2 linked regions of the Homo sapiens genome follow. The protein of the gene in region 1 purifies or fractionates together with the protein of each later gene. This does not show direct contact. Each region holds a gene or a part of one and is shown in the gene's direction. Other genes may lie near its edges.

The links.
Region 2: the proteins of DEDD (region 1) and RANBP3 purify together in Homo sapiens (affinity purification with mass spectrometry; one large-scale study listed by BioGRID and IntAct). This does not show direct contact.

The regions. Positions count from the first base shown.
Region 1 is NC_000001.11:161,129,819-161,134,278, reverse strand, and holds the start of DEDD (death effector domain-containing protein), read left to right. Parts: upstream 1-1,611; 5' UTR 1,612-1,728; intron 1,729-1,832; exon of another isoform or gene 1,833-1,888; intron 1,889-3,431; 5' UTR 3,432-3,464; intron 3,465-4,460. UniProt on the Homo sapiens protein: A scaffold protein that directs CASP3 to certain substrates and facilitates their ordered degradation during apoptosis. May also play a role in mediating CASP3 cleavage of KRT18. Regulates degradation of intermediate filaments during apoptosis.
Region 2 is NC_000019.10:5,922,438-5,926,241, reverse strand, and holds part of RANBP3 (ran-binding protein 3), read left to right. Parts: intron 1-504; coding exon 505-608; intron 609-1,336; coding exon 1,337-1,415; intron 1,416-2,327; coding exon 2,328-2,430; intron 2,431-2,938; coding exon 2,939-3,048; intron 3,049-3,804. UniProt on the Homo sapiens protein: Acts as a cofactor for XPO1/CRM1-mediated nuclear export, perhaps as export complex scaffolding protein. Bound to XPO1/CRM1, stabilizes the XPO1/CRM1-cargo interaction. In the absence of Ran-bound GTP prevents binding of XPO1/CRM1 to the nuclear pore complex.

The DNA.
Region 1 (4,460 bases):
GTGCTGGGATTACAGGAGTGAGCCACAGCACCCGGCCTATTTATTTCATTTTTTTTGAGACAGGGTCTTGCTCTGGTGCCCAGGCTGAAATGCAGTGGCGCGATCTCGGCTCACTGCAACCTCTGCCTCCTGGGTTCAAGCAATTCTCATGCTTCAGCCTCCCAAGTAGCTGGGATTACCGGCATGTGCAACCACACCCATCTAATTTTTTTTGTATTTTTAGAAGAGACAGGGTTTCACCATGTTGGTCAGGCTGGTCTCGAACTCCTGGCCTCAAGTGATCCACCCGCCTCGGCCTCCCAAAGCTAGGATTACAGGTGTGAGTCACCATGCCCGGCCCTGATGTATATATTTTAGTTAGCATTTTACTATATCTCTGTTACACTAAACGCTTTCACCAGTTTCCTTGATAGTTCTCTATGGTTTTCTTCTTTCCTTTCGGTTTGCCCCTTCTCAGTGTTCTTTTCGGCTTCCCTCATCCTATCCCGCAAATGCAGGTATCCTCTCCAGCCCACTTCATGGCTTCAACAGCTATCTATATGCACACGCACACACACCTCAAACCTTTCTTTTGAGTTCCCAACCCACATTAGCTAATATCCCAGGGGCACCTAAAACTCATTATCTCCCCCCTAAACGAGAAAGAAACTGGTATCATTATTCCCCAGTTGTCCAAGTCACAACATTCGTACCTCTTAAACCAATCTGTATCTCCCCATCCGCACTCTCCCTTCCACAGGCAGACCATCATCATCCTTGCCTGGAAAAGAGCCTCACAACTGCTCTCCTTGATTCTCCTCAATTCATTCATCCTTCACACTGCACGCAGCGATCTAAAATGCAAATGAAATTGTTCACACCTCTGCTGAGATTCTTCAAAGACTTTTCATTGCCTTAAGGATAAAAATCAATTAATTTACAAGGCTTCGCATAATCTGGTCTTCCCCTATCTATTACCACTTTCTTAAGCCACACCAGAACGTACCCGCACCATCCTCCCCACCCCCAATTCCCAACAGCCCTACACGGATCAGCTAGGCGACACTTCCTACAGGAAACCGGCGTTCAAAAGGTAAATGCTGAACAAATGAATTCCGAGACGGGATCTGGGCACCACTTTCGGCTCCGGATCCGGGTTTACGGAACGTCCGGGTTATCAGGAAGCTCAGAGGAAAGGTGAAATCCAGATCTTGACCCTTCACTCAAGTTCGCCAGACAAACCGATCCCCGTGGTATTCCGCCCTTATGAGTCATGGCTGCCAATCCCAGCCTTCCAGTGGGTCTTGAAGTCGCCACCAGCCAGCTGTGGCGCCACCAATGTTTCCCATTCAAGAATGCTATCCTCTTCGATCCCTTATTACCGCCCTAAGCAGCCGTCAAGACAAACCGGCGTTGCCAGCTTGCCCCAAAGCAAGATGGCTGCCAATCTCTATCTCTCCTCCCGAAGTGAAGCTATCCACTCCCCGATTAATGCCGCTGCCAGGCTGCCCTCACTTACTATGGCTACTCCGGCTCATGTCTCACTATGGCCTCGAAGCCGCCACTAACCGGCCGGGTTCCGGGAGGCGCCGTTCAGGATGCAGCCACCCCCGCCCGCCTGTCCCCTCCCCCACGGCCGCGGCGGCGGCGGCGGCGGCGGCTGCTGGAGCCCGGATGCGGCGCCGTGAGGCAGGCCCGGGAGAGCGGCGCGGATGGATCCAACATGGCGGCGCCGAGCCTGAGCCGAGAGTGAGGCGGAGGGGCGGCCGGAGTGGGGAGAGGGAGTCGAGCGGGACGGGGCGGGGCCGGGCGGGGCCGCAAAGGGCTTGGGGAAGGAAAGTGGAGGGGGAGGCGGTGGCGACGTCCAGCCTGAGAACCTCAAGAGAGGGAGGTGACGGGACGCTGAGAGGTGGGGGAGGGGAGCTGCCGAGGGGGGCGTGCAGGGGAGATGGCAACTGCGGGAGAGGGCAGGGGTCGAGACGGAGGAGTGAGGGCATGGGGAGGGGCGTAAACAAGGGCTGAGACTGGGCCCAGCCAGGGGTATTAGAGAGGCCGAGGTGGGGAGTGGGGCTGCGATCCGCTCGTATTGAAGGGGGTAGGAGCAGGAGGGAGAGGCTGAGGGTGTGAAGGGGAAGGGGGCTGTGGCATGTGGTTGGAGGGAGGACTGGACTCTGATGAGGGGTGTTGCGAGGAGGTGGGTAAAGGTCAGAATTGGAGTTAAGACGTTTCTGGGGGGCTTCGAAAGTGTTAAATTGGAGGTGGGAGGGGGAAGGGCCTAGGGGAGAATTTGGGTGGAAAAGGAGAGAACGGAGGCTTGGGGAATGGAGAGAGTGTCGGTGGGAGGAGGTAATGGAGAAAGTGAGAGACTGGGAGGAAGAAAGTTTGGGAGGAAGGGGAGTGGAATGGGAGATAGGACAGTGGAGCTGCACGGGTGATAGAGGTTCGGGGGTTTCCCTTTCCCCGGTGGAGAGGAGGAGAGAACAGAGTTAAGCAGCATCAGTTGCAGCCAATTCTAATTGCCAGGCCCTTAGCTTTTAAGAGGGTGGGAAGGGCAGAAGGGAATGGTCATGTGGGTTTGCAGAATTGGGGTTGGATGAGAATTCAACTGGGTTTGTTTTCCAAAAGACTCCCTAGCTTACTGTTCCCTTGTTTTTCCTGCTTGGGAAAATGGGGAAGCCGGTGTCGCCCAAGTGTGGAGGAGCAAAGGACTTTTCTAGTTTTTAGCATTAGCAATACAAGAGTGGGGGAGCAGACATGGCTATATTGGAACCCTATATGCTAAGGTGGAGGCTCTGGAAGTCTGAGGAGGGAAAGAGAAAAGATAGAGTGGCATCTAGACAGGTTAATTAAATGAGTGCTGTAGTTTCCAGACCCTTTTGCTGTTTTAAGTCTGGAAGGGAGGGGGTAACATGGATACTGTATGTAGAAAAACTTTTCCCTGGTGAAACATAGACGTATGAGTGGATGCTGCGCCATTAGATATTTTGTTCTCATTGTGTGCTAGTTAAGGGAAAGGGCCAAATGTAGAATTTGGAGGATAGTGCTGGTCTGCTGTAACCACTTTCCTCCCAGTTTTTTCTAAAGGTGAAAGTTAACGTTAATATTGTAACAAAATAGGAATAAGGAATTGTGGAGGAAGATGAGAAGCTGCCAGAGGGTAATTGGTTTTCCCAGAAGTTCTTAAATTTGGGAGCTGTCTTGCCGCAAGCCATTGAGACTGGAAATTCTTGGAGTTGGTATTGTTTTTGTAAATTGACTAATAGAGAGTTAGGGAAGCCTGGAGACTTGTTGGGGGTGAGTTCTCTAAATGGTTTTAGGCTTGTCTGTGTACTTTTGCAACGAGATTGTCTAATTCTATGGGCCTCTGAGGTTTCAAAGTAAAACTTGAAAATTAATTATTTTCCCCTCCTTATTTGTTTTTGTTTTGCTGCTGGCTGTGAAACTTGTGCTAGGAAGAGACCTGGGAAATTAAGTTTCTTGCGGAGGTAAGTCTGGAACTTTTTTATTGTTTTCAAACAATGGAAGGGAATGGAAATAGCATGGGAGTTATTTTGAGGTTGGGTCCATTAATGAGGAGGAGAATGCCAGGGAAAATGAGTTATCATTCATCCATCTGAGTGCATGAGATCTGTTGTAATCACTGTCTTTAGTTAATTGGAGATAGGAGGTGAAAGAGAAGGAGATTTAGATGTCTTGGGACAATCCCCCAGCTTTGGTTTGTTATTGTCTAGTCTTCTTGGTCAGCTCTGAAACATTTTTTTTTTTTAACATATGGAAGGCTGTATTCTAGTACATTGTCTACTAAATGTTGCCCTTGGAGGGTTGCTGGGACACCTTCCTTCCGTGGGAAACTTTTCCTCTAACTTTCTCTTTCAGCTGTTGGGGGGTTCCTGGCATCCTTCTTTTGAAAACATACTATGTAATTCTGACTTCCAGATATTTGATTACATTTCCTATCCCACCAGCAAGAATGTACTCTTAACCATCTTTAAGATTTTCTATGTAGTTTTAATTTAAGTTTCAAGATACCACTTTTTTTTGTAGTTCTTCTGCATGACTTTTCCTCTGAGGACTTCTGAGAGAGTCAGATATCTCTTAATTCTATGAAATTACAAATATCATCCCTGTTCAGAAAAGATGACTGTCATTTTCATTTCAAGACAGCACTCTTTTTTATTTCTTTCATGTCGCTTTCCCCTAAGGGCTTCTGAGAGAGCCAAGTACCTCAAAAACTACAGATATTCCTGGTTGGGATGAGACCAGACTTTGCTTGGAAGTAGAAACATAGTAGAGAAGGACCAATCAGGAGGAAATCCTGAAGATACCTATAGACTGTTGGCCCTTGGCTGACTTGGACTTCTCTAAAGAAAAAAGCAAAACTCCAGGAAATACAACAATTCCTCAGAATCAATTATTCTTGGGAAACTGTAGGGGAGAATTCATGTGTTACTATCTCAAATACAGCCAGACCAGTCAGTGGG
Region 2 (3,804 bases), on another chromosome or scaffold:
TGAGCCTCTGCTTCCTTGTTGGTCAAACAGGGTCCCTAACATCCCCCTCCCAGGCCTCGTGAGGATTAAAGCAGATCGTGCATTTGACAGACTCAGCATAGCAGCTGGTAGGAAAGAGGCCCTCAAGAAATTCTGCTTCTATCATGTTCATAGTAAACCCCCCAAAACGTCAGCTTTGTAACGTTGTGTTATTGGTATGAAGCATTGACCGAGAGGCCAGCTTAGGCGTGGTTTTATAACAAGGCGTGGTTTTGTAACAAGGTGGAAAAGGCTCCTTGGAGCTTCATGAGCTCTCTTTCCATCCTAACTGTTAAAGCAAAAGGTGATGGAGTTGATTATAGCCCTGCCCCCCAGCACATGCACGCGCACACACACAGGCGGGTACAGGAGAGGGTTCATGGCTCCGAGCAGCTCCATGCAGCTCAGGGGGTCTGCAGACACTGAGCTGTGGAACTCCAGGCACCCCCCCACCCCCGATTACTGAGCGCTCCGTCTCATTCCCAGCTGATAAATGAGAGCGTGGACGAAGCCGACATGGAGAATGCTGGACACCCCAGCGCAGACACGCCAACCGCAACGAACTATTTCCTCCAGTATATCAGTTCCAGGTGTGTGTCTCGGTGTCAGCGGCCAGCCTGGCATGGCGATGCAGGTGGCCGCGAGGGCTTCTGCCAGAGAGGGGTCTGTGGTCCCCGTGCCCGACTCAGGCCCAGAATCCAGGTTGCTCTCAGGCCCCTCTCTCTCATTCCCCACTCTGGGCACAACCTTGGGTGGGCCAGGGTGGTGGGCCTTGTCCTGGGATTCACTGGACGCCTGAGACAGGACCAGAGTTCTGTGGGGTTGTCCAGGGGCCCATGGAGGCTACAGCCCAGCCCTTGGAGTGTGCCCTCTGTCTTGTGGACCTCATGCCCAGAGCAGAACAGAGCAGGCCAGAGGCGACTCAGGCGCCCCCTTATTCTGGGTTTGGGCACCTGGGGCAAAGACCTCATCATGTCCTTGACTGACATGGCTGGGGGTAATGCTACCCACGGACCAGCTGCCCCTCCAGGTGTCTCAGAAGAAAGCGTGTCCCGACTGGGAGATGGGCGGGTAGAGCAGGTGGAAGGTGGCTTCCCTCATGCTGTGGGGCCCCTCCATCAGGGCGAGCTAAGGGTTAATGTTTTCAATGGCACAGGGAGGTGTGTGGCTTCCTGCCTCTGACACGCCACCCCGTGCACAGTGGCGGAGGCCCCTCCACTGTGCCCTCTGTGTCAGTGTGTGCTCCATGGGTACCCATACATTTGCCTGGCCACGTTCCCACGTGACGCCCCACACTCATTGCACATCTTCTCTTCAGTTTAGAGAACTCAACCAATAGTGCCGACGCCTCCAGCAACAAATTTGTATTTGGCCAGAACATGAGCGAGCGAGTTTTGGTGAGTGGCTGTGTTGGGAATGTTCTCAGGGACCAGAGGCTCTCGGCGCCAGCCACAGGTCAAGGGGACATGGAGAGCAGGGCTGCTGTGTCGTCCTATGTGAGATGGGGATGCCTTCAGTAGCAAGTGAGAGAGGGAAGACCCTGCTCAGACTCAGCCTGAAAACTGGCCAGGGCCACTGGCTGCCTACGAACTGGCATTCGCTTTTCCCGGCTCCTCCGTGCTGACCAGGGCCAACTTCATCCCAAGATGGGCTTCCCTGGAGGCTGCAGGGTCCTGCTGGCAGTCGGGGTCCATGGTTCCTCCCCACCAGGCCAACTGACAAAAGTCCTGTGGGACGGAGCCAGCCGTGCTGGTGGACAGGGTTGCTGGCCTCCCTGCTCCTGTGAGCATAACCGCGGCCAAGGCCTTGGGTGCACGAAAGGCCCATCTCCGTTCCCAGGAGCCCAGCCAGCCTGGGAGAGGGTTCTAGAATGGTTTGCCTACCTCTTTACACATGTTCCTTTTTCTTCCTGATTCCACCCAGCTCCATTGCGACTGCGTGAGGGCCTGTCCTGAGCCGCCTGGTCACTCTAGCTCTGTCTGGAGTTAGGCTGCATTAAGTACTCTGCAGCTTCTCTTCCTTCGTGGCCACGCTGTGCTTTTTCTATTTCAATGAAATGTTCAAAGTCTTGCCTCACCCAGACGGAGTGACCAGTGTGGCTCGAGGGGACTGTCGGCTGGTGGCACTCACCCCGTAGTGATGCCTGAGGGACCACGTGGGGAGCTCCCAGGCAGTTCAGGGTGTCACCGGGAGTGGGCAGGAGTGCTGGGGGCAGCGTAGTGTTGGGGGCCAGGCAGAGAGGTGCTCAGAGCTGCTGCTGAAGGACCACACAAGTGCCCTCTTCCTTGTATGCTTTTGTGTCCCTGCAGAGCCCCCCAAAATTAAACGAGGTCAGTTCAGATGCCAACAGGGAAAATGCAGCTGCCGAGTCAGGGTCTGAGTCCTCGTCCCAGGAGGCCACCCCTGAGAAAGGTATGTTAGCGTCCCACCACAGCATGGGGCTCATGGTAGGTCATCTTGGGGGATGCTGGGTCCATTCACACCCCCAGCCGGGAGGGATAAGGGGCCCGACTCCCGCAGCAGTAACAACCACATGTGAACCAGCTCCAGGGCCCTGCCTTGCAGTGAGCAAGGGTTTGTGATAAAGAACTCGAGGGCCTGTGTCGCCTTGTGGCCGTGGGGAGGGTGGGGAGGCGCAGGCAGCAGGCGTGGAGGAGTCCCTCACTGTCCCCCCGTCGACTGCTCGGCACGAACACGAGAGTCTGGGGCCACACTTGGCCCCCAGATGGTCTCCCTGCAGCTTCTGAGGCCATATGCTCTGGCTGTGTCTAGGGTCCACTTGGGTTGCCGGGGCAGGCCTGCCAGGGGCAGCAGGCGTCCTTGAGACCAGAACCAACCCTCTCATCTCCTGTCGGATGAGGGGAGATGGCTCTCCTCTCGCCAAATAATCAGTCAGTCTTTTTGGCCAATAACTTTTCAGAGTCCCTGGCTGAGTCGGCAGCCGCCTACACCAAGGCAACAGCGCGGAAGTGTTTGTTGGAAAAAGTGGAAGTCATCACCGGGGAGGAGGCGGAGAGCAATGTGTTACAGGTGAGGGGCCGGCCCCTCCTCGGTGGCCCTGGGTCTTCCATGCACCTGGGGGTCCAACCGCAAGGGCTGGGCCCACATCCTCTGAGCACACAGGCCTGCCCCTGAGATGACGGAGGGGCCACTGGCCCCACGCTCTGGGACTTTGTTGGTGGCGTTTGTAGAGAGAGCTTAGGCTCAGGGGCTTCTTGCATGTCTTTGGTTTCAGAGGAGGAGGATCTGTTTGAGACATTCTTTGTTTTGTTTTAATTTTTTTTGAGACAATGTCTTACTCTGTCACCCAGGCTGGAGTACAGTGGCACAGTCTCGGCTCACTGCAACCTCTGCTTCCTGGGTTCAAGGGATTCTTGTGCCTCAGTCGCCTGAGTAGCTGGGATTACAGGTGTGCACCACCACGCCAGGCTAATTTTTGTATTTTTAGTAGAGACGGGGTTTCCCCATGTTGGCCAGGCTGGTCTCAAACTCCTGACCTCATGTGATCCACCCGCCTCGGCCTCCCAAAGTGCTGGGATGACAGGCGTGAGCCACCACGCCCAGCCCGAGACATTTTTGATGGTTCAGGGAATGACAAAGACTGTCATACCAAACATATTCTCTTGTCGCCCAGAGCTGGCAACTGTATTATTTGTCACCTGGCATCCTGTGGTGTCTTCGTAGGGAAAAGATCAGGTGCGGCCAGAGGTTCCACCCCACCGTCCCCTCCTGGCATCCCCCATTCCTGCTCCTCAGGCCGCACCACCCGGCTTGGGCAGCATCCAT